Homo sapiens: one gene and its partners. The protein of the gene in region 1 interacts with the protein of each later gene in a biochemical or structural test. Each region holds a gene or a part of one and is shown on either strand. Other genes may lie near its edges. The genes, in order: RGS12, ITGB3, GRIP1, APBA2, PDLIM1, TJP3 and DGKK.

Evidence for each region.
Region 2: the proteins of RGS12 (region 1) and ITGB3 form a complex in vitro, tested with the Homo sapiens proteins (one study listed by IntAct).
Region 3: the proteins of RGS12 (region 1) and GRIP1 interact in a test that uses a peptide from one of them, tested with the Homo sapiens proteins (one large-scale study listed by IntAct).
Region 4: the proteins of RGS12 (region 1) and APBA2 interact in a test that uses a peptide from one of them, tested with the Homo sapiens proteins (one large-scale study listed by IntAct).
Region 5: the proteins of RGS12 (region 1) and PDLIM1 interact in a test that uses a peptide from one of them, tested with the Homo sapiens proteins (one large-scale study listed by IntAct).
Region 6: the proteins of RGS12 (region 1) and TJP3 interact in a test that uses a peptide from one of them, tested with the Homo sapiens proteins (one large-scale study listed by IntAct).
Region 7: the proteins of RGS12 (region 1) and DGKK interact in a test that uses a peptide from one of them, tested with the Homo sapiens proteins (one large-scale study listed by IntAct).

Annotation. Positions count from the first base shown.
Region 1 is NC_000004.12:3,296,021-3,299,520, reverse strand, and holds part of RGS12 (regulator of G-protein signaling 12), read right to left. Parts: intron 1-3,500. UniProt on the Homo sapiens protein: Regulates G protein-coupled receptor signaling cascades. Inhibits signal transduction by increasing the GTPase activity of G protein alpha subunits, thereby driving them into their inactive GDP-bound form.
Region 2 is NC_000017.11:47,309,327-47,312,826, reverse strand, and holds part of ITGB3 (integrin beta-3 precursor), read right to left. Parts: intron 2,689-3,500; coding exon 2,623-2,688; 3' UTR 1-2,622. UniProt on the Homo sapiens protein: Integrin alpha-V/beta-3 (ITGAV:ITGB3) is a receptor for cytotactin, fibronectin, laminin, matrix metalloproteinase-2, osteopontin, osteomodulin, prothrombin, thrombospondin, vitronectin and von Willebrand factor.
Region 3 is NC_000012.12:66,459,077-66,462,576, forward strand, and holds part of GRIP1 (glutamate receptor-interacting protein 1), read right to left. Parts: intron 1-3,500. UniProt on the Homo sapiens protein: May play a role as a localized scaffold for the assembly of a multiprotein signaling complex and as mediator of the trafficking of its binding partners at specific subcellular location in neurons.
Region 4 is NC_000015.10:29,115,895-29,118,815, reverse strand, and holds the end of APBA2 (amyloid-beta A4 precursor protein-binding family A member 2), read right to left. Parts: intron 1,755-2,921; coding exon 1,683-1,754; 3' UTR 501-1,682; downstream 1-500. UniProt on the Homo sapiens protein: Putative function in synaptic vesicle exocytosis by binding to STXBP1, an essential component of the synaptic vesicle exocytotic machinery. May modulate processing of the amyloid-beta precursor protein (APP) and hence formation of APP-beta.
Region 5 is NC_000010.11:95,284,504-95,288,003, forward strand, and holds part of PDLIM1 (PDZ and LIM domain protein 1), read right to left. Parts: intron 1-3,500. UniProt on the Homo sapiens protein: Cytoskeletal protein that may act as an adapter that brings other proteins (like kinases) to the cytoskeleton. Involved in assembly, disassembly and directioning of stress fibers in fibroblasts.
Region 6 is NC_000019.10:3,728,884-3,732,383, reverse strand, and holds part of TJP3 (tight junction protein ZO-3), read right to left. Parts: intron 2,357-3,500; coding exon 2,254-2,356; intron 2,030-2,253; coding exon 1,678-2,029; intron 450-1,677; coding exon 346-449; intron 1-345. UniProt on the Homo sapiens protein: TJP1, TJP2, and TJP3 are closely related scaffolding proteins that link tight junction (TJ) transmembrane proteins such as claudins, junctional adhesion molecules, and occludin to the actin cytoskeleton.
Region 7 is NC_000023.11:50,468,026-50,471,979, forward strand, and holds the start of DGKK (diacylglycerol kinase kappa), read right to left. Parts: upstream 2,801-3,954; 5' UTR 2,654-2,800; coding exon 2,009-2,653; intron 1-2,008. UniProt on the Homo sapiens protein: Diacylglycerol kinase that converts diacylglycerol/DAG into phosphatidic acid/phosphatidate/PA and regulates the respective levels of these two bioactive lipids.

The DNA of each region.
Region 1 (3,500 bases):
AACCAGACACAAGACACAAAAACCAACTCTGGGAGGTCCTGGAGAGCTATGAAAAGCAGGCAGAAAGTGGAGGGGAGTTGTCCCCTGAAAGGAGAGAGCTGCACCAACTAAAACAAGTGTTTCTAAAAATGGCTAGAGCACAGGTAGAAGTTGTGATCCTCCCAGCTTGAAGAGTCCAAGATAGGGCTTGGGGAGGGCTGGGTGGCTGAACAGTGAGGGGCATATCTCAGAAAGGAGGTCACTGGGGAAGAGGCAGTCGTGAGATCTGTTAGTAAATTCTGCCTAGGTCCTGGCCAGTGGTGAGCCATCCATGCACAGAGAGACCCCAGAGTCCAGCAGAAGGAGGCAGCCGGAAGGTCAACAGCACCAAGCAGAGACTGCAGCAGAGATTTTCATTTGAGTCCAGACAAATTAACTTCCAGAACAAAAATCAACACTCTTCAGAAAAAAGAAGTCACTACAGTTACCATCTACAATGTCCAGTACACCATCAAATAACACTAGATGTTCAAAGAAACAGGAAGATGTGGCCCATAGTTGGAAGAAGCCAATAGAAATTGATCCTGAGGTAATGCAGGTGTTGAAATTAGCAGAAAAGAACATTAAAGCCGCTAGTATGTGTTCAAAGATTTAATGACAGTATGATCACAATAAACAAATGACAGAGCAGAGAAATGGCAACCATAAAAAATAAGTGAAAATTCTAGAAATAAAAACTACTGTAACTGAAATTTTAAAATGCACGAAACTTAATAGCAGTTTGAAGATGGTGAAAAATTACATATCCAAGAAGTTCAACAAACCCTGAGCAGGACAAATACAAAGCAAACCCTCCTAAGAACATCACAATCAAACTGCTGGAAGCCAAAAATCCCAGGAGGAGCTTGAAAGCACCTCATCATATAACATAAAGGAGCAACGCAGCTACCAGAGTGACTGACTTCTTAGAAACAGCAAAGGGGCAACATGACGAGACTATGAAAAAATAAAATGAAAAGTAAAAATTGCCAGTTGTGGGGGTGCATGCTTGTGTTCCCAGCTACTCAGGAGGTTGAGGCAGGGGGATCGCTTGAGCCCAGGAGTTTGGGGCTGCAGCGAGCTATGACTGCACCACTGCACTCCAGCCTGGGCAAAAGAGTGAGACTCCGTCTCTTAAAAAAAAAATTGAACAAACATCAAAGAGATCAACAAGATGAGAAAAAAGAGAATTAGAGGATCAACCTAGGAGGTCCAACCTCCAAATAAAAGTTCCAGAAAGAGAAAACAGCAAAACTGAAAGAAAATTATCTTTGAAATTTAAAAACTTCTATCCTCAGACTGAAAGGGCCCACGGAGTGCCCAGCACAATAAACGGAAGCAGATGCCATTATCGGGCTTCTCAGAACACTGAGGGAAAAGAGCCGCTTCTATGAGCTTGAGGCAGGAGAGATCACACACAGAAGAACTGAAATCAGAATGGCGTCAGACCTCAACAGCACAGAAACCAAATGCAATGAAGCAACATTTTCAAAATTCCGAAAAAATCATTGTCTAAAATTTTATACCCAGCTAAGTTAAAAGGTAATTGGAGAGTAAAATAAAGATGTTTTCTAAATCAAGGACCAAAAAAAATACCTATGTGATGTTTCTTAGGTATCAAAAGAGTAGGACTTCAGCAAAACGAGGAGTGAGCCAAGCAGAGAGAGAAGAGCAGGACCCAGTGCACAGGGAGCCCCACAGATGGAGGACAGCAGCGGGAAATGCAGGTGACAGCGGCGCAGCAGGTCTCCTGGAGACCAGGGCAAACGAGAGCAGGGAGAAGGCTCCAATCCCAAAGGGGTGGGGATGGGGCTAGTGTCCTGGATGCAATGAAAAACAAACCATTTTGATAGGTGGGTGACTAGAAGATGCTAATCCACAGGGCTGTGCGAGAGGACCTGTGCTCAGGGCACTCCTTGGCGCAGTAATGAGCAATGCTTACAGTCACACAAGAGCAAGGACTGTCGATTTCACCAAAAATGCAGTGATTATGATGGCACATAGAGGGACAGGGAGGCTGGTGGGACAGAGGAGAGCTAAACCTCCCCACGGCCTTTGGGAGAAATAAAAAAAGAATGTCTTAAGCTTTAAAGGAGCAGCTTCAACAGCAGTAAATGCCTGAGAAAACAGACCACTTAGGATCCCGCCTCTGGGGGCTGCGGCCAGGCAGGGCAGGAGAATGCCTACAACTGGACGCTTCAATCCACAGACTCAGCCCTTTTTCAGGCATGCTGGAAGGACAACTAAGATCACTGCTAAGGGACACAAAGATGTAGGAAAAGATATGTGAGTAGAGTGTGTATGCGTATCGGGTATCACCATGATTACAGAGTTGGGGACAGCAAGTGCATGGAAAAGCAGAAAGAAAAGAAAAACAGAAAGAACAAACTAGATGTTTCTTTTCTCTTTCACTGAAGTCCAGACCTTAAAAGACACAGAAGAAGGGAACTTCTAACACAAGAGTTCCTTGCCCGGAGCCCGAGGCAAGAGGCTCCTTCATGGAAGAATCTAGGCAACTTCTGCAACGGTGGCCCCCAAAACCACAGGTAAAACTGCATGAGCACTGTGTGGAGTATCCAGTTTGGAACTGGTAACGACCCCACCTCCTAAAAAGGCACAGCATGAGTGACCTCCCACAACCTCTCATGACTGGGGCTTGCATCCTGAGCAAGGCTTGTCTTCCTTCCCAGGACACCTGTTTCCAGGATGGCTCCCGCCTCTCCCCAAGGGCAGGGAAGTGAAACCACAGGGACCTTCCCTGGACAAACCCTGCCCATCCCAGAGAAGAGGCATGAGACGGGTGCTCCTCGCACACAATGGGAAAAGTGAAGTCATTTCGAAGACAAGTGAGGAGCCTGCTGTAGGCTGAATAGCGATCCCCAAAGATATCCAGGCCCTAATCCCTGGGACTGTGAAAGCCATACGGCAATACGGATCTGCAGATGTGAGTAAACTAAGGCTCCCAGGACAAGGAGATTATCCTGGAAATTTGAACATGGCAGAAGAAGACAGAAGCTAGGCGCGGTGGCTCGTGCCTGCAATCCCAACCCTTTGAGAAGCTAAGGCAGGAGGATCACTTGAGGCTAAGAGTTCAAGATCAGCCTGGGCAACATAGTGAGACCCCATCTCTACCAAAAAAAAAAAACAGAAAAAATTAGCTGGGCATGGTGGCACATGCCTGGGGTCCCAGCTACTCAAGAGGCTGAGGCAGGAGGATGGCTTGAGCCAGGAGTTCAAGGCTGTAGTGAGCTATGATTGTGCCACCGCACTCCACCTGGGCAACAAAGTGAGACCCTGTCTCTAAAAGGAGAAAATAAAGAGGAGGAGAAAGACAGCGATGTGACAATGGAGGCAGGGCAGGAGCCGGGAGCCAAGGAATGAGGCCAGCCCCCAGAAGCTGACCAGGGGGGCAGTTTTCCTCCAGCCCCCAGAAGCTGACCAGGGGGGTGAACGGCTCTCCTCCAGCCTCCAGAAGCTGACTG
Region 2 (3,500 bases), on another chromosome or scaffold:
GCCGTGTTATCTGATGCCAGAACACTGTTTAGCTGTTCACCCCACAGGCCAAAACTGCTATTTGCTACCTCATGAATGCAGCTACAGGTTATCCCCACATATTGACAAATAATATTGGTCTTCAAGACCTGTGAACTTCATTCCAGTAGCTCAGACAAGATTCCTGATTTGATTCACCTGTTAAATACATTTTCTTCCCCCTTTGATACAGTTTCTTCATATAAAACATCTTATCTAAAGAAAATGTCCCATTAACACTCTCATGGACTCTGTCTTAGTAACTGAAGATTATAATCACAGGCGTGAGCCACCACACCTGTCTTAGTAGCTGAAGGTTATAATTACAGGCATGAGCTTCCACACCTGTTCCCTGCCACTATTTCTAAGGACTTCTTGGATCCATGACTATCCCTCCCCGCCCCCTATTTATCCCTCTACCATACTGCCATTCCCTACAGTAAGGAGTAATCCATGGGTGAGACAGGGCTCAGTCATTGCCCCATATCTAATTCCAAGGCTTATTCTCAATGTTAACACAATAATACAGAATAGATATTTCAGCTACTTATGGATTCCTCTTCCCTAATATGTGGATGCAAATGTGTGCAAAGTGAAGAAAGAAATAATAACTAAATGAAGCTTAAGTGCTACATCAGGAGAGACGTAACTATTAACAAATGTTGGAAAACGGGTTTGGAGAGAGGATAGAATGAGACTTTCATTGAGAAAGGTGATATGGAATGACATCTGCTCTTGCCAAAGCCAGGTCTCTCAGATCTCCCAACTAAAAACACAAACAGTATCAATATCCCAGAGAATCTTAACCGCACATTTGATGACACAGTAAGTCCCAGCATCTTAGAATGTTGATACTGAAAGAGACCTTCAAGACTGGCTGCTAAAATCCCATCATTTCTCAAACTAGAAAACAGCTTTAAGAAGAAGAAAGTGACTTGCCTTAATTAAAGATTATTTAGCTGTAACACTGAGGCCAGAGCTCCAGTTTTCTGCTCATGGAACAAATGTTGATAAGTCTTTCTTTTTTTCTTGGGCATTTGGGGGTGGCTTTTAATGTTGGATGTATGTCAACACCAATGGAGCCACTGCTTTTCTGGGACAAAAGAACAGTCCCTCTTCCTCAGGAAAGGTCCAATGTGTCCACACATCTATCCCCATAGCCTTCTATCATGAGAGAGCCCCTCACAGATCCAGCCACTGGCCAGTGACTTGCTGTGAATGATGCCAAGTGGGAGTGTCTGTACCCTGCCCAAGTCTGTGTGGTTTCCTATGCTCTCCTTCTTTGCCATCACATAAATTTACAAATATAATGCAAGCATGTTTATATACATGTTCTTTTAAGTTAAGAAAACCTCATCATGAGAAAAATAAAATAAAATTGCACTGTGGCCTCTCAGATTAAAGACTGAGTTAAAATGAGGTTGTCCAACCCATAGAAGAACAGGCCACACGTGCTGATACAACTGACCCATCATTCCATCCTGGCACTTATTCCCAGCCAACTCATGGGAATAATTCCTTCACAAGGCAGCCAAGAGGTAGAAGGTAAATACAATCAGCCCCATGGATGGATACAGCACACCAAGGCACAGGGCCAGGTATGTGGAGGTGCTATGGATGAGGGACAGGAGGCCGGAAGCATAGGGCCAGACCTCTGGCTCTACAATAGCACTCTCTCCCTTTGAGGAAAAGCATTTGGTCATGAGAGACATCCCCAGCTCATAGCAAATGTCTACAGCAGTGAGGGTGTGGAATTAGGAGGTAAAGAGATGGTGCTGGCCTAAGGGTGACACACTTCTTCTAAACAAACCTCCAGAGTAGAGCTGCCAATAAGGCAAATCTGAAGGGTTGTGATTATGAACTGGGAGATGCTGGTACATCCCCCAGGCCATGAATGACCCCTGAGTGGCCCAGACATCCTCACTCCCAACAGGTCAAAGAATTAGCTTGCAAGGACTTCCCTTGCGAGAGAACCATAGCTGGGTTGAGGGGATGGCAAAAGGCACAGGCAGCTCTAATAGTTCAGCTCTCCCTGACTCCTCCTTCGGCCTGAGGGAGGGGAAAGGAGGCAGAGGTACAGATGACCCGGGCTGCCAAGCCCAGCAGTTCCTACCATAGCTGCTGAGAGTCAGGCCTGAGAACCATAAATTTATGAACTCAGGGTAGAGCCAAGGCTTGGTGTCCCTTCCTCTGGAATGAGAGGCCTCAGCCCTGCCCTTCTCTTCAGGGACAATGGCCTGATGAGGAAAGCTGGCTTCTCACTGAGGTAATGAAGAACACCTGCTCAGCTCCATAGTCACCCTCAAGCTAAGCAGGAAGAATCCCTGCAGGAGGCATTCTGGGACAAAGGCTAAGGAGCTCAGCTTATCAGGACACATCACAATTTTAAATTACACACTCCCACACACAACACACACACATAAACACACAGACCCCCACATACACACACACAGACCCACACTTCCACATACTGACATTCTCCCAACCTACCCCACTCTGAGCCCCAAATCCCTCCCCACAAATACTGTCCTCTGTAAACATGATGGCAGGGACTCCTGCAATCGTGGCACAGGCTGATAATGATCTGAGGATGACTGCTTATCATTAAGTGCCCCGGTACGTGATATTGGTGAAGGTAGACGTGGCCTCTTTATACAGTGGGTTGTTGGCCTGTGGAGGAAACAGAATAGCATCTTACAGTGACTTCCTTAAGTCCTTCCCTACCCTGAATGTTTAAAATTCATCTCAGAAGTTTTCCCAAGGCACCGTTCTCTGGAATACATCATCAATGAAACAGAATAATGTTCATTTTGCTCACACTTTAGTTCTTGGCATGGGAATTGATAGGAAATAACAGGAGGAGATGAGGTAGAATGCCATCCTGCCACCGTTTCTTTTTTTTTTTTTTTTTTTCAGACAGGGTCTCATTTTGTTGCCCAGGCTGGAGTGCAGTGGCACAATCTCGGCTTACTGAAACCTCCACCTCCCCTGACTCAAGACATCCTCCCACCTCAGCCTCCCAAGTAGCTGGGACTACAGGCACACACCACCATGTCTGGCTAATTTTTGCATTTTTTTGTAGAGATGGGGTTTCTTCATGTTGCCCAGGCTGGTCTCAAACTCCTGAGCTCAAGCGATCCACCTGCCTCAGCCTCCCAAAGTGCTGGAATTACAGGCATGAGCCACCACACCTGTTCCCTGCCACTATTTCTAAGGAGCTATATTCAGCCTATCACTCTTCAGTGATTCCACAGCATTCGGGGATAGAACCTCTCCTATTTCACCCCTGTGTCCCCGTCTCTTTTGCCCTTCTCCTATTTTCCATTCCCTGTGACAGTGATAGGAGATGTGGACAAGGGACAGAAATGTATCAGGTGCAATTCAGAACACAGAGGAAAGCTTTTGCTCAAATAATTATTAATTTGTTTTCATCTAATCTGGCCAAGCACTAACCATGGCCAGGCATGGTGGTTTATGCCTAT
Region 3 (3,500 bases), on another chromosome or scaffold:
TTCTATAAGAGTAGGGATATACTTTGCCTGTCTTGCTCACTAAATATATCCTAGCAACTAGAACAGTGCCTGGTATATAATGACTAATACATGAATGAATGAATAAACAAATGCATGAATGAACGGGAATATCAGCCAGAGTGTCCATGTGAACACTGCAGCAGCATTTTCCTTGAGACAAAAGAGTATTTATTGCAGGAGATGTCCCTAATGGATTCTCTCTCACCATCCTCATTCTACTTTGGGTGTACAAGAAGACATTTCAGCAAGACGCAGTTATTACTGTGTTTGGCCAATTTACAACCACCGACACTTTAGCGTACTTTTCACAAAGTACCATCTGTGTTTCAAATGAAGCCAGGGTACGGTGAATGCACTTCGGGATTCTACACCCACCTTTTGACCCGCTTCTTCATTGAGAGCTTTGAAAATTACTGGGCATTTGTTAGGACTGTACAGCACAATTAATAAGTCAATAAGGAAGATATTATTTACCAGCTATTGCTTTCTCAGACTGTGCCAATTGCTACAGGCAGGTTAAAGGTCATACCATTTACCTTGACTTTGAATTACTACTGGGGATTAAATCTTCATACATATAAAATAATTAAGAGACAAAAATGATATAAGATAATGCACAAAACTGTATGCCATGGATGATGAATGCAAAAGGTGTTGAACAAATAATGTAGGCCAGAGAAGAGAGCTGCTGCCTATTTTGAATGTACACTCCAAATGTTTTCTGTTTTACAGTGGTGTACTTGATAGGCAAGTATTTCCAAAGTTTAATAATAAGATGTTACATTTTTGGCATGTCCTGTCATTTTGCAAAGAGCACTTATAGACATTCTCTCATTTAATAAAGCCAATAATTGTAGCCTACTTTCACTGATTACTTATTATATACTAGGCACTGTGCTAGGTGCTTTTTCATGGATTAGCTCAGACAATGTTCACAATATTCCTTTGAGGCAAGTATTATTATGACCCCCATTTTACAGATGAAGCAACTGAGGTATAGAAAAGTTGGGTAACTTGCTTAAGACCCCACGTGGTGGAGTCAGAGGTGAAGCTCTGGACACGTGATCCTAAAGTCCCCGCTTCAACCACCAGACATACCGCCTCTTCCTATGGGTATGTCTAAGTCCCTTGTTATGGATAAGAAAACAACACATTTAAAATATTATGGTTCTTGTATCATTCCATGGTGACGTCACTACTGCAGTCTCAAGAGATATATGGCCACAGAAGTTACTTTTCTTTCTTCTTTCTCTAATTGCAGCCTCTTACTCTGTTCAGGATGTTCGAGAGAGCAGACCACAGTGGTTCCAGGTTGCCCTGGAGCTCTCAAATGGAAGGTCCTCCTGGTACTGAATGTGTCGAGTCTAGTGACTCTGGTCACATTTTCCTTTCCAAAACGTCAGTTTCCTTCAATCCAATTATGTCTCCTGAAAACCCTCAGTGGGAAAAATTTCTAACCTCACTGAAAACTCATTTCTGTCAGCTTCTTTAATGCTGCTATTTATCAGTGAAAGGCATAGCTAATCTCTTATCCCAAGTTGAGATATTCATTTCCACACTGGCCTGAAAACTCTGTGGTATATGCTTTACTGCTAACACAATCTGGAAATTTGGGAAGTGTGTTGAGAGACACACTGTTCAGGCATCAGAGATCTTGAAAAAACAATCAGAACTTTCTTGTGGAGAAAGGGTAAAACTATGTAAAACTCCACTAGTCAAAAATTTGAGAATTGTAAACACAATAATAATTTTTTGTTTGTTTTTCTTCTTTACTATGATTTAATTATGTTTAGGAGCCAAAATTTATTTCCTCTTGGAAATCCAAGTCTGATTTTAATGTGCAATATAACGGAAACACCTGCTTGATAAGAAAGACAGTGAACAACTTTCAGTAAACGTAGACGATGGAGTCAGAAGTGGAAGCTAGAATTACTTAAACTTCCTATCAGTTTCCTATCCCTGCAACACAAACGACATCAGGTTTTCCACAATAAAGGCAAAAAATTTGTGCTTAGTCCATATATTTTAGTGTATAAATTAAACTCAAATTGCCTTGGCAGGTTAAAAAATTTAATATTCCATGAGTTGAAAACACTTGAATTATTTATGAATTGTATATAGGGCCAATTAAAGAAAAATAAAAGAGATTACTAAAGATGCTAACATTTTAAAAGGGTCTGGTATGCATTTCCGATTCGCTGATACCAGAATTTAGCAAGCAAAACCCCATGCTGAGAGAGCACTACACAGTGTACATTCTTATGGCTACTGTGCTCCAAATCCAATGATGACTGCCGATTAATTTAAAGAAACTTAAACAGCTTCAGAAATCTCTCCTCTCTGCCAGAGTGCAGGAAGGGCCCACGGGGCCTCCTGATAGGAATGGTGTGCATCCTTGTGAACGGCACCTTCCTACAGCTGTTTGCATTGCTATTCCAATACTGTGATGCTGATTTTCTTTTCATAACCTGCCTATGCTGCATCATTTCTCTACTCCAATGTGTAAAATTAAAATCTGATAAGGGTAATGTTGTACTAGAGATTTTCATTAGCTTCAGGGCTGTCTAAGCTCCATTTAATTAAAAAGGTTGCATCCAGCTGACTGATTTAGTATGAAAATTATCTGGTCCCTCTTTCCCCCCGCCCCAGACTGTGGAGAAGTGTAGTGCATTTTAAAAGGTGGGAGACACAATACAAATGACCCCCTCATAAGCAAAATTTCAATTTCAGAGAAAACTGCACTGTGTCTAAATATACAGAAATGCATTATCCTCCTTCAGGCCACCCTGACAATACTAGTGAGGCCTCTAATTTCAAGGAGTACAAAGGAATGGTGTTTGCTTTAAGGAATAGGGCAGGAGAGGGAGTCGGAACAAATATCCTACTGGAAAACTTGACTTCATTTGATTTGGGGCTCAAAGACCCCTTTCTCATACCAGGTTTTGCCTAAAGGTGCCTAGGTAGATGGTATAAACACCCAGCAAATGTATCTGTGAATTTCAAGGGAGTCAAAATACAGATACCTTCAGCTGACACTTTCTATTGAATAAATGGAGTTAAATATTCTGATTCTCCCAGACAAGATGTTTGCTCAGACAGGTTGTTCTCTATCCTAAGAAAAAAACTCCACTGGCAAAAGACATAATATATTGTAAACCAAGGCTTCATATAACTGGTTCCCTCTGATTCCTGCCAAATATTTGAAGGTTCTGCTATTAAAATCCACTTTACTTATTTATTTTTAAGTGAGAGCTTTACTATTTGCCTTCATTGGCCTTCATCTAGGCTGGAAATTCAAAATGTATACCAGGAAGTCAAATTATTTTCCTTGTCTGCACATTCAATTTGCACCAAAGACTTTTTTAAGAAAAAAATATCAAATAGCACTAGCCTGAAAATTTTTTCCTCGATGTTAGGGTTTCAAGCAAATTATGTGTGGCTTAGAAAAAAGACTTTGGAAGATGAATTAGAGTAAACAA
Region 4 (2,921 bases), on another chromosome or scaffold:
AAGAAAGGTAAGTGCTGGCAGAGCTGCCAGAATTGTCACTCTAGACAGGCTGCAAAGGACCCACAGGTGCAGACAGGGTGCTGGGATGGGCGGTCCGGCTTTTACACACGCACACGCATGCACACCTTTCCCAGGGGCCATTTACGTTGAAATCTGAAGAAGCCCAAGGCTCCCTGGCTCCCTCATTCCATTAGTGAGTGCTCTGCGGACGTGTCTCCCTGCTGGGGCAAGTGGGTCAAGAACCTGGCGCTGACCCCGTGACCTGGTAGCATTGCTGGCACCTCCAGTTGCAGCGGGGCGTTGCCCAGCTGACACCTGGTGCCCAGAGCACCCACCCACCGAACTCATTAGTGACAGCTTCCAAGGTTCAGGATCCAGGAGGAGCACAGAGCAGCTGTGGCTGCCACCGCATAGTGAATTTGCAGAGCCGCATCCAAGCTGTGAATGAAAGGACAGGCGGGCACCCGCCGCTGAGGTAACAGACCAGTCACACACACGGCTTTTCATCACGACTTCAGGTTTATTAGTGATATGCGCGAAGTCTTCCTACGGGTAGCTGCATGCAACACACGGCACTCCTCGAATACAGTCATCCTAAAGCTTTAGTTACTGCGTGGTAAGGCTTCTTAAGTCACAGTGTATTCTTCAAGGCCTGGGCCAAAAAAAGAGACTTCGAGACAAGATGACGTCAGATTACATGGATCGCTAATGAACCGAGCTGGACTAGATCCGACTTGATCTACACACATGCCACTACTGCTCAGGGCCACTGCGCCACGCTGGCCAAGGGGTCTGCACTCACGGCTGGCTGCTTTAGGTGCGGCCAAGGTCGCGTTTTCTAGAGTGGGTTTCGTTTCCTCGGGGTCGCATGTGCGTGGATGTGTGTAGATCGATTTTAAAGAGGGGGCAGACACCTGTGCCCTCCTTGTCTCTGTGGGAGCCCTGCCCGGGTATGCAGCCGGGTGGGAGGGTGCCCAGAAGAGACGACGGGAGAGGCAGGTGTGGTCATTAGTCACATTGGAAAACCCTAGAGTCTGGAAAAAAGCCTGCCAAAATAAAAGTCCAAACAGTAATAATAGCATCTAAATAAATATGGAGTTTTCATGTTGTGGCCATCATCCTTTATTTACAATCAATCAATCAATCACATGTCCCCAAACTTTCATTACAAGTCGTGTCCTGGGAGCCAGGCTGCCCGTGTCCCTGCAGTCAGTGGCAGAGGCAGCTGTTTGGGACCATTGTGGGGGCCCCACAGGACCCCAGACGTCCCAGCCAAGGGGGCGGGAGGCAGGGGTGACGGCTGCCCTGCCCCGGGAGCCGCGTCCCTCGGAGGCGCCAGTTCGCTCCGCACAGCTTCAGGGAGGAAAGACACACACTCCACACCACGCACAGCTACCGAGACACACCCTGGCTTGTGCAGGGAGAAGACAGTCCAGAACGTGGCAAAATACTTGGAACGCTTTACAAACAAACATTTGTTCTGTGACTCTCCTTTGATAAAGACATACCCCTTTTTGGCAAAATGAAAAAAATCAAGTGGGTGGTGAGGGCACACCCTTTGGGGAGCCAGCGTCCGTGGCTGGGCTGTGGCGTCGGGGTCAAGTCTGCGGCCCGGCTCCCAGCTCCTCTGGGCCCGGGCGGCCCTGCCCGGTGTCCTGGCTGCGTGGCCAGGCTGGGGTGGCCTAGATGTACAGCGGGGTCTCCTGACCCGTGAGGAGCCTGAACATGGCGGCGGGCATGGTCTTCATGTGGATCTGCGGACAGAAACAGGAGGCTGAGCCGCTGCCCTCCCACCTCCCCTCCCACAATCAGGTGAAAGCAAAGGACAGAGGCAAACCCCCCAGAGTTCTGCTTCAAATGCCCATCTCCTAGAGTGAAGGAGGAAGGCCAGCCTGCCCAGGCCTGGGGACACTTATGATGCCTTCCAGATGCAGCAGACTGAGACTCCAGGTCCCCACCCCTGGCTCCAGAGGAGTCAATACAGTTGAGTGCTAGTTTTGCTTCCAGTCCAGCTGACACCCGAGGGGTGAGAAATTGGACTTCTAGTGGTGACAACAGTTTGCCCATCCACTGGGGCTGGCTGGGGGTGGCCAGGCCTCGGCAGAAACTGCGAGGGATGCACTCTGCTTCACTGAGGAGGAGCTCAATGGGGGAAGACACACGCACCCCTTCTTTTTTTTTTTTTTTTGAGACGGAGTCTTGCTCTGTCGCCCAGGCTGGAGTGCAGTGGTGCAATCTCGGCTCACTGCAAGCTCTGCCCCCCGGGTTCATGTCATTCTCCTGCCTCAGCCTCCTCAGTAGCTGGGATTACAGGTGCCCGCCACCACACCCAGCGAATTTTTTTGTATTTTTTAGCAGAGACGGGGTTTCACCGTGTTAGCCAGGATGGTCTCAATCTCCCGACCTCGTGATACGCCCGCCTCGGCCTCCCAAAGTGCTGGGATTACAGGCCTGAGCCACCGCGCCCGGCCTACACCCCTTCTTACAAAACACACACGGGCCAGGAAAGTGTGCTGGGGGCTGGGAACAGGCTCGCTGGGGCCCAGGGCACCTCAAGTTCTTAGCCTTTGGGGATCGGTGAGCAAATGACCCTTTGGGGCCTGGCCTCGAGCCCTGACTCCAAAGGAGCTGGGTATACAAGCAAGGCCTCAGACCGCCCCAGGGAGACCAACCGTGTGGGTGGCGCGCCTTGTAATCCTTCTTTGCGGACACTGGGAAGGAGCAGACTCTAAACGTCTGCTTCAAGAACGGAAAGGGAGCTCTACTGCCCACTTCTCCTCTCCTGAGCACGACGCTCTCCCCTGTCCTGCCCGGGACTGTGCTAGGCTGCGGCCTCCGGATGGGGGGCCCTCGCACTGCCAGGGTCAGCTGCCGCAGGCATGCTGGCCTCCCCACGGGGTGCAGCCGCCGTGCATCTGCCC
Region 5 (3,500 bases), on another chromosome or scaffold:
CCACTACGCCTGGCTAATTTTTGAATTTTTAGTAGAGACAGGGTTTCACCATGTTGGCCAGGCTGGCCTCAAACTCCTGACCTCAGGTGATTCACCCACCTTGGCCTCCCAAAGTGCTGGGATTACAGACATAAGCCACCAAGCCCAGCCTCTGTATGCATTTTCAATATCTTTATCTAAACTAGGTCCTATCTATGTTCTTATTGTCTTACTTGATACGAATGGTCGTGTCTATAAAAATTAGTCCCTGAGTGTTCAGTAAGGAATCTGGCCTCCTACAAGACCGCTGTGTTCTTCACAAAATCATTTTTAGTATTTATGGCATTTACCAAGGAGACAGTGTATTACACATGGGAAAGTGCACCACAGAACTCAGCCACGGATGAGCAGCCCAATTTGCCCAGGATGTGGCTAACAAGAGTATCAATAATCACACAGGGTGCTAACAGCCATACAGGAATTACCTTTTTTGTCTTAGGTTTCATGGGTATATTCGGTTTTGGACTTAGCTTGGCTACCGCAAGGTGGAACTGTTCACTGCCTGGTCATCTTCATCTACCACAAGAACCATTCCCAAATGCCCTCCTATCCCCCACAAGCAGGTCTTTCTCTAGCCAGTCCTTCCACTCCTCTGCTCTTGTTCTTCACTGTCCAAGTGGGCATGGAACCTCATAACTGGACTGTAAATTCTCCCAGGTGGGGCCATGACTTTCAGTTTTTCAGGAGGGACAGGGAAGGGAGGTGCTGCTTTCTGAGGTGCTCTGAGCTGAGGCCACAAGGCAACTGGAGAGCCACCCCAACCAACCTCAGGAGAATGAGAGGCTCCAGGGTGTGGAGCCCAGGAGTGTCTTATCCCTCATGTTGAAGCCTGCACCACCCTTAGCACTTTTCAGAGCTGTGTGCTGGGTTAACACTGTTAGCAATGAAATATTGACAGTTATGGCTTATTAGGAGGCAGAATATAGTGGTTAAAGCTGGCCTGGAAGTGAGTCTGCCTGGCTTCACTTCCCAGCTCTGCAATTGTCTGACTTTGTGTTCTGTGTCCCTCTGTCATGGGTTGTGGGGAATACAGAAGAAGATAATGTAAGTGCATGCTTAGCACAGAGCAGGCACTCAAAAAATGTTAGCTGTTATTAATATATTACTATGACATAGAGATTAAGACTACAGGCTTGGAAGCCGGACTCCCCAGCCAAACTCCAGCTCTACCACTCACTGCTATATGATGCAGGCAGTGTACTTAAGGTCTCCAAGCCTCAGTTCCCTCATCTGTAAAATGGGGATCTTAATCCTACCTCACAAAATACGTGTGAAGATCACTGAATATATTATGGTCTTAGAATGGTGCCTGGCATATTAAAAGTCCTATATATGTTTTAACTATGGTTATTACTGCAAGCAGATCAAATAAATATTTCTCACACAAATCTTTCAAATGTAAATGGATGCTGCTGTGATTAACAGAAGACAAATACATCTGAAACATTCCTGAAATCACAGTGTTTTCTAAATCAACTTATGATTGAAGGTACAACTAATGCCATGAGAGACTAGGACACTCTAACAATAAAAAAGTGGGCTCTTGGCTCATGCCTGTAATCCCAGCACTTTGGGAGGCTAAGGTGGGCAGGTCACTTGAGGCCAGGAGTTTGAGACAAGCCTGGCCAACATGGCGAAACCCCATCTCTACTAAAAATACAAAAATTAGCCACATGTGGTGGCTCATGCCTGTGATCCCAGCTACTCAGGAGGCTGAGGCACAAGAATCGCTTGAACCCAGGGGGTGGAGGTTGCAGTGAGCCGAGATCATGCCACTGAACTCTAGCCTGGGCAACAGAGCGACACCCTGTCTCAAAAAAAAAAAAGTAGCTCTCATATTCAAAGGGTATGAAAACCTCTGGGTTTGCTTGCTTATTATTTTATTTTATCTTTACAGGGAATATTATTTTATTTTATCTTTACAGGGAACTGAACCCAGGAGAAGACATATGATTTTCCCAGGATCACCCACCAAGGTGCTCCGGACTAGAGCTCAGCTTGAGTCCCTGCCCTGGACATTGTACCAGGCCCTCAATTAAAGTCCTGGAAGCTTCCCCCAGGCTTTCCTCTGAGACCTACTGGAAGCGAAATAATCCTTTAAAAGTTAGTTTTCTGACACAACCACTTTTGCTCCAGTCTCTATCCTATCCTTTACAAGGAAGTTGAGTAGTAAGTCAGCCAGTGAGAAATTATGTAAATTCAACCAAATTACCTAACCTGTGAGCACCTGAGCTTTTCTGTTTGCAAAAGGCAAAGAATGCTAGCTTTCCTCTCCTCTGTGGAGCAAGAGTTAAGGCATGGCCTAAGAATGTGCCAGTCCTATCCTGATCCCAGTACACAGCAATTCCTTGGTGCTTTTCCCAGTCCTGGTCAGCCTAGGAGAATATGACCCAGACGCTTAGATGACACTCTCCTCTCAGTCATCTACCTGGCTGCAATACCCTAAAGCCACTGTTCTTCCCTCTTGCCTCCTCAAACAAACCAGCAAGGTTGGCATCAGGAGTTTAGGGAGGGGAGACTATCTGGTCAGAGGGTGATAATGTAGTATGGGCTCAGGCATTCACTTACATGTCATTCTCTTTGGTTTGTCCTCTTCCCCCTCTCTCCTTAAGTCAGCTGTGAGCAGCTGAAGTCGCTAATATTTCCCAGGTATCAATTTCACAGACCAAGGGCATGCAGCACAATGGCCATTAAAACATAATGACCCTTTTTGGACATTTCCTGCTTTTCATAATCTGACAGACAAACCCTTCTCTTTCAATCTTTACGACATGATGTAAAATCTATCTGAATCCGGAAATACCACTCTTAAAAATCAGAAATGACCCTCTGGCCACAGTAACCATTATTAAGCATCCCTTGGGATACTTGAGAAAAAGCATAAGCATTTGCCACAGAACCGCTCAGCTCTTAGCAAAGGGTTCCCCAGGACTCCAGAGACAAATGAGCAACTCCTCCAACTAAGGGCATCCCTTGATCTTGGCCTCACCCTTTCCTGTCTTTTATCAGTTGCTGGGAGAGAAAAACAGTCAACATAAACTGAGTTGCAATGTTGGCCTGGGTATTTCTCTGAAGGCTTCCCTTGAAAGTAACTAGAGGGAAGGAGAAATTAACATGGAAAATTTTTTTAATTAAAAAAATACCTCAAGGAAATGGGCAAGTGTTGATTTGAAGCAGGAACTGACAGAAAAAAATATCAGAGAACAGTGGCAAATGTGTGGCTGGATCATCAGGGAACACAAGGCAAGAGCACTAAACGAGAATGTGGGTAAAAGAAGCTAGCCTATGTCCACTTAAAGTTGGAAACCTGGGTTGAAATTTTAAGTTGATAACGATACTAGATGAAAACATTAAGGAGCTAAAGAAGCTGTTCACACACACACACACGTGTTCTGTATGAGTCTGTTCAGAAACAGGCAAAATTAAGCTATGGTATTTGGGATACCTAATTTAGGTGGTAA
Region 6 (3,500 bases), on another chromosome or scaffold:
GCTCCCCTAAACCTGGTGACTGGGTCATTAGCATCCAGTCACCTAGGGTAGGTCCAGGAGTCAGCTGCCCACATGAGTCTCTGATGCACATCAAAGCTAGAGGGTATTAGAAACAGACAACCCCATGGGGATACTAGAAACCGACATTTGGCTGTGGATTAGTAGTAGCTGGGGAAAAAGGGGGTTTTATGCCTGGCCATCTGCAACCTTTGAGATACAAGCAACAACACTGAAGGTAAATGCTTTGGGGCCCAGTTCTGCTGTCCTTGCTGTATGACTCCGTGGGACTGCCCGCCCCAACCCTGCCTTGTCTCCCTGCTCTCAGGACAAGAAGCCCGGCCTCACCTGTAGAATGAGATCTCCTTCCTGCAGCCCACGGTGCCGGGCAGCCAGGCCCGAATCTGTAATGTGCTTGATGAAGATCTGACTGCCCAGCTTGACGCCAAACTCTGTAAGGGGGGAGGAGGGAAACTGAGGCAGGACTCTGGAGACGGGTGCCTGGGAGCATTCTCCTGCTGTAAGCAGTCCAGGTGCGGGCCCTCCCATCCTAACACCTTGATGGCATCATAAGGAGAACAGTGATGTCGCCCGTAGGACCCGAGATCTGATTGTGTCAATGACATCTCCACGGGGCGGGGACACCAGGTCACCGTGCCACTCGTGATGTTGCCATGCACAGGCTAAGGGCATTCTATTGCTCATAACATCATCATTGTTTCAATTTTTATTTTTTATTTTTTAATTTTTTTCGAGAAGGAGTCTCACTCCTATCGCCGGGGCTGGAGTGCAGTGGCAAAATCTCAGGTCACTGCAACCTCTACCTCCCGGGTTTAAGCAATTCTCGTGCCTCAGCCTCCCAGGTAGCTGGGATTACAGGTGCACACCACCACGCCTGGCTAATTTTTGTATTTCTAGTAGAGATGGGGTTTCATCATAGTGGTCAGGCTGGTCTAGAACTACTGGCCTCAAGTGATCTGCCTGCCTTGGCCTCCCAAAGTGCTGGGATTACAGGCATCAGCCACCACACTCAGCCAGGCCTCCTCTTATAAGGACCCTGTGGTGACACTGGGCCCCCCAGATCATCCAGGATCACCTCTGAGCTCAGGGTCCTTCACTCCATCCCATCTGCTGAGTCCCTCTTGCTAAGTGAGGTGGCCTAAACAGAGGTCCCGGGGATCAGCGCGGGGACATGTTGATAAAATGGTTCTGGGCCCCAAGTGGCTGACAGGTGATATGGCTCAACCTAGCCCAGAATTAGGGACCACCAGGTTCAGAGAGAAAGAGCTAGAGAGAATATATGAAATACAGACAGGCAGAAAGGGACAGAAAAGCAGAAAGTGGGGATTTGTGGTGGGGGGAGCGAGGAGCAAGAAGATGCCAGGTGTAGTTGTAGCTTCCAGGCTGGGCGCGGTGGCTCACGCCCACAATCCCAGCAAGCACTATGGGAGGCCGAGGTGGGTGAATCACCTGAGGTCAAGAATTCGAAACCATCCTTGCCAACATGGTGAAGCCCCATCTCTACCAAAAGTACAAAAATTAGCCAGGCATGGTGGCGGGCGCCTGGAGTCCCAGCCACCAGGGAGGCTGAGGCAGGAGAATCACTTGAAACCGTCGCCCATCCGACCACGGTGCCCTGTGTCCAGTACTGATCGTGTCCGACCTCCCGCCTCTTCTGACCTTCGCTGTCTCTCCTCTTCACCAGCACTGACTTCACAGGCTTCATCTGCACGTCCTGCCGTGGCAGCCGCTTAAAGCCGGACACCAGGGCCAGCCCGTTGGCCTCAGAGCCACCACCTGGGCTCCTACGCCCATGGCTGCCGGCCCGGCCCCGGCGACCAGGCCTCGGCCGGCGGGAGCGCTCGTCCCAGGAGCGGCCGGAGCCACTGGATGAGTCGCCGTCATAGCCCCGGCCCTGGTCCACCTCCTCCACCCGCTGGGGCCCATCGTCTTCATCCGAGTCCTGGCGCCCTGGGCTGGAGGGGCTGGCTTTGGTGGCGGGCAGGTGGATCCTCCGGGGACGTTTCACTGTCTGTTAGAGGAGGGGACAGGAAGGGTCAGCTACAGGCAAGGGCTGGGGGAGGCTCTGCTCAGCCCCCGGGTGGCCCTGGGGGACACCAGTCTCTCTCTGGGCCTCAATGTCCAAACTGTAAGATGAGAAGATGACTCCTTGCTCTCAGAAGCTTACAACCCCCACAGCGGCACGACCCAGGCTGGGGTCAGAGATGCTGGCCATGCCAGGGGCTGCCTACTCACGATGTTGGCCATCTTGGTGCAGGTCTTGAGTATCTGAATGGCAAACGCGGAGGTGGCATTCTCCATGGAAACCCCGTTCACCATGACGATGTGGTCGCCTGTCCTGAGAGAGGAGGGCGGGTCTTACGGAGGAGGCTTTGCAGGGGAGACCCTCGTAACAAGCCCTCCCTGGGGAGGGGGTGCCCCTGGAACCTCCAGATCTACAAGGCCTGGTTCTAATTCATTGGTGTCCCTAGGTTCACAAAGACATTTATCCTTCTGGGCCTCCGTTTTCTCACCTGTAAAATGGAGCCAATTGTAGAACCTACTATAATCATAGAGTGGAAGCTACATTTTTTTTTTTTTTTTTGAGACAGAGTCTCACTCTGTTGCCCAGGCTGGATTGCAGTAGCATGATCTCAACTCACTGCAACCTCCACCTCCTCGTTTCAAACGATCCTTCTGCCTCAGCCTCCCTAGTAGCTGGGACTACAGGTGCCCGCCACCACACCCGTCTAATTTTTGTATTTGTTAGTAGAGATGGGGTTTCACCATGTTGGCCAGGCTGGTTTTGAACTCCTGACCTCAGGTAATCCGCCCACCTCGGCCTCCCAAAGTGCTGGGATTGCAGGTGTGAGCCACTGCACCCGGCCTTGAAGCTACAGCTACACCTGGCATCTTCTCACTCCTCGCTCCCCACACCACAAATCCCCACTTTCTGCTTTTCTTTCCCTCTCTTCCTGTCTGTATTTCATATTTTCTTTCTAGCTCTTTCTCTCTGAACCTGGTGGTCCCTAATTCTGGGCTGGGCTGAGCCATATCACCTGTCAGCCACTTGGGGCCCAGAACCATTTTAACAACATAATTCCAAGAAGCATCAAACCCTCAAACACTCGATGGTTTCCAGGACTTTATGTTCCAAAAGGGCTCTGGGGCCACTATGACCCCAAGAATTCCTGTGAAGGACCAGGAAGTACCTTAGGGAAGTGAGGCCCAAGTCTCTGACACTGTCCTACTGCCAAGTCCGAGCCCTGTGTTGACAGAGCTGGAAAGTGCCAGGCTCACAAAGGTTTCTCCTCACCTCACTTACTTTCTTTTTGAGACAGAGTCTCACTCTGTCACCCAGGCTGGAGTGCAGTGGCGCAATCTTGGCTCACCGCAACCTCTGCCTCCCGGGTTCAAGCAAGTCTCCTGCCTCAGCCTCCCGAGTAGCTGGGATTACAGGAACACGCTACCACATCCCGCTAATTTTTGTAATTTTAGTAGAG
Region 7 (3,954 bases), on another chromosome or scaffold:
TCCTGGTCTCCTGCCAGTGTTGCCAGATGTCTGTGGGTCAGCTAGCCAGCACGTCTGAGTGGGCACTACGTAGAGGAAACTAATCTGATTCCCCTTACCTTAATCTTCCTCATCTGTCTGGCAATGACATTTTCCTGTCAAACAGGTAGGAGATGCTTTCGCATGGGAGCAGGGGATGCTTTTCACTGGGGGAAGGGTCCTGGTCGCCAGTCAGCCTTTCAGAGGCCAAAGGGGAGATGCATTCTCTGGGTATTACGTCCCCACGTGTCAGTTTCACAGCCATGTTCCCAAAATTTCGCTTAAGATGGCCACAGGTCAGGTGATTCCTGCTTGTCTCTTTCCCACCAGCTTAATGCAAACTCTTCCAAAAAGACAAGATCAATCACCCGGTGAGGGTGAGCTCCCAAATCTAGCCACCCCAACTTTGCCCTTCTTAAGATCACTGCAGGAAAGGGTATTTTCAGGAAGGGGAGGGATACATCCCCTGGTGAGAGCTAGGGTGTTGAATTTTTAAAAACTTATCAGAGTCTCCCACCGTCATGTTTTATTTATTTTTAAACCTCTGCACTTTCTTTTCTCTGTGAAACTTTTCATTTTAGCCTTCTTTTTCAGTTATTCGTCATTGCAGATATTTTGCAAACTCAAGCCTCCCTACTAAGAACTCAGGAAGCAACCAATGCTTCCATTTCGTGATGCCAATCTGCCCCCTCCCCTCCCGCATTCTACATTCTATAAGTGTGCGGTCCACAGCAGAAGGGTTCCTGAGCCGTGTCCTTATGGTCTGCTAGGCAGCAGGATGGACCGGTATTGTTCGTGTGTTGTGTTATTCGTTTGTGTGTGTGTGTGTGTGTGTGTGAATGCGCGCGCGTGTGTATGTCTTCCTGCAGGGGAAGCTAAATTGAGGTGTGTGTGTGCATTATCCTGGTTTTCAGTTTTGTGGAACGAAGTTTAGGGTAAAGGAAGAGTAGGGAGAGTGCAGAGAAAGCAGGAAAGACAGGCATACTCCCGCTTAAGAGCAGACGGGGTTTCAGGGTCCAAGGTAAACACGAAAACCTTTTTCCTCCCTACTCCCCTTGGGCGAGTGCCAGAAGATTCTCCACTCATCTTTTCCCGGCTAAGTGTAACGATTTAGAAGGCGTCGCGGTAGACTGGTAGAGATGAAGGTTCCCCTTCACACGTTCTGCAATCCCAACTCCTATTTTCGTGTCTCTAAACCAGGACTCCTGTACCATTCCAATTGGCCCTGGTGCGGGATGCCAGTTGCCCCGTTTGTGACGCTGCGCAACATTGTATCACTGCGTTTGCACCTACCTGCTGGGAAATCCTGCAGACAGATGGAATGGTGGCTTCGACACACGCATGCTCTCCCCCTCCTCCCGGAGAACCCTGCCCTTCCCCTGCAGTGCGCGTGGGCGCCGCCCATCCCCTCGTCCTCACCAGGAGTACCAGCTCGAAGCAGCCGGCAGAGGCGCCGGGCACCTCCCTGGAGGGCCGCCAGTTGCGCCCAGCTGAGGCGCCCCCTCCCCAGTGGCAGGGAGGGGGCCAAGCAGGCGAAGGCTCCGCAGCTTGGGCCTCTGCGGCAGTGACCGCGGCTAAGAGGTGTGTCCCACCGCCCCCACTCAATCCGTCCGCTATGTATTCGGGGCCAGCCCCAAACACTTCTCCAGGTCTCTTGCGCTCCCCGAGGGTATCTTCCTCCTCTCTTTCAAGATATTGGCGCTCACCGCACTGTCGCTTCTCTTCAAGGGGAAAACTGCTCCGATTCCCACCCCCTGCTGTCACCCCCGTTTCTAGCCCCAAACAGCCCATTCTCGATTCCCACATGTTGCTTCCCGCCTCCCAACCCCTTCCCATTCCCCCGGGTTCCCCATCCCTGCATCTTTCTCAGCATCTTGGCCAGCCAGTGCCAGACAAGCGGGATGCAAGGGGTACCCGGAGTCCCGCGGGCTCCATAGCCATCTGACTTCGCCTTGCTTCTTTTCCCCGCTTCAGGGGGTCTTTTGCTTACCTTTATTCTGGACCACGACATTGGCGTTCTGGGCGATGGCGATGGCGATGGCGATGGCGAGGTCTTTAGACCTCTCTCTCGAGTGTCCACCGGACATTGCAATAGACATGGTGCTGGACTTGGACGGAACTCTGGAGCCGCCTCAGGGCAGAACTCTGGGGCCAGCTCTGTCACAGGTTCTGGGGTCGGCTCTGGGGCCAGCTCTGGGGCAACTTCTGGAGTCAGCTCTGGGGCCGGCTCTGGGACCGACTCTAGGGCAGGTTCTGGAGTCGGCTCTGGGGCAGACTCTGTGGCAGGTTCTGGGGCCGGTTCTGGGGCCGGCTCTGTGGCAGGTTCTGGGGCCGGCTCTGTGGCAGGTTCTGGGGCCGGTTCTGAGGCCGGCTCTGTGGCTGGTTCTGGGGTCGGTTCTGTGTACAGTTCTGTGGCTGATTCTGAGGTCGCCTCTGGACAGGGACCTGGAGCAAGCTCTGGACAGGGCTCTGGTATGGGTTCTGGCGAAGCCTCGGAGAGCAGCGGCGGAGCCGGCGGCGGAGCCGGTGGTGGTGGCGGCGGCGGCCAAGGCGGCGGAGGCTCTGGAGACTCAGCGGGCTGCTCTCCATCCTGAGGCGGGGCAGTGCCCTGGGCTGCGGCAGCTCCGCGGTCCATGGCCGCACACCGCTTCAGGTCTGGGCAGCCTGAGTCCCTAAGCCTGGAAGGCTAAAGTACCCTCGGGCGCCCCGCCCACTCCAGTCCGGCAGCCCCTCGCAGGGTGCCAAACTTTCCCCCATCCCACTCCATGGCTGGCTTGGCTCTGAGGTCTAACCCGTGGGCGCTCAGCGTCTCCCTATGCTGGAACACGCCCCTCAGTGTGCGCACACCTCTTCGTAAGCAGCCACGGGTCCGATGGGCGGGAAGCAGAGGGGCTTGCGAACGCGGACTGGGCAGAGCGCTTGATGACCTCCTAGCGACGCGCGGGAGGGGAGGGGAGAGACAAAAAGGGGAGGGGGAGTGGAGCGGCGTGGAGGTTGGGGGGCGGGCTGGAGCCTTGCCGTGTTTAACCCTTTAGTGACACGAATGAAAAAAAAAAGCCAGAGGCGAAGTTGAGGGTCTTTGCAATCCCCCAACCACTTAGCTGCTGGTCAGAATAGCTTCCATCCTGTGTCTGCTCTCTCACCTCAGCAGCAGGTGAGCTTAGCCTCGGACCAACCTCTTGCCCCCCATCTCCAAGCCTCGATGGGCAAGTAATGCTTTTTATCTAAGCCGGGAAAAGAAATTAAGCGGCATGGTGTGTGTGTGGTGGGGGGGGGGGGTGCGGGGGGGGCGGGTGTTCAGCCTCCTTTGGATTGAAGTACAATTTGACCCTCTTCGGTTTTTTGCATTTCTGAGCTTTGCCGTTGGGTACAGAGTTTGAGGTGATTCGGGAAAGGAGTGTGATGAGGGAGGCTGGCGCCCCGGCTTTCCGCAGCCTGCAGCCTCCCCGAGAGCAAGTCGAGAGTGCCCCGGCAGCAGCTGGGCTTCGCGCTCGGGAGCTGAGGCTATCTGGGCGTCTGTCTGGCTCGCCTATGCTATAGGAGCCTGCCTTGTGCTTTTAGCTGGATTTCCCAGCCATCAGCAGGAGTTTGTTTTTCCGCCCCCCCCAAACTTGTTAACGCGCGCGCGCGCGCGCGTGTGTGTGTGTGTCTGTGTGTGTGTGTGTGTGTGTCTTGGGCTGGGGAAATTCACTGCAACACCCACACCCTTTTCACCTCCTGAAGCAGTCTGACATTAGAGATGGGAGATTCTCTTGGGAAGAGAACGACTGATGCCTAGCGCAGCACCTTTCCCACCACATCGGAAGACTTTAGAAGCTCTTTCTGTTATAGTCACGTACACATACACACAAACCATCATCTTAGTCAGACCTAGACTTTAGACGCCAATATATTACCAATTGTAATTAAAATTTGAGAAGACTACCTGTTAAGCCA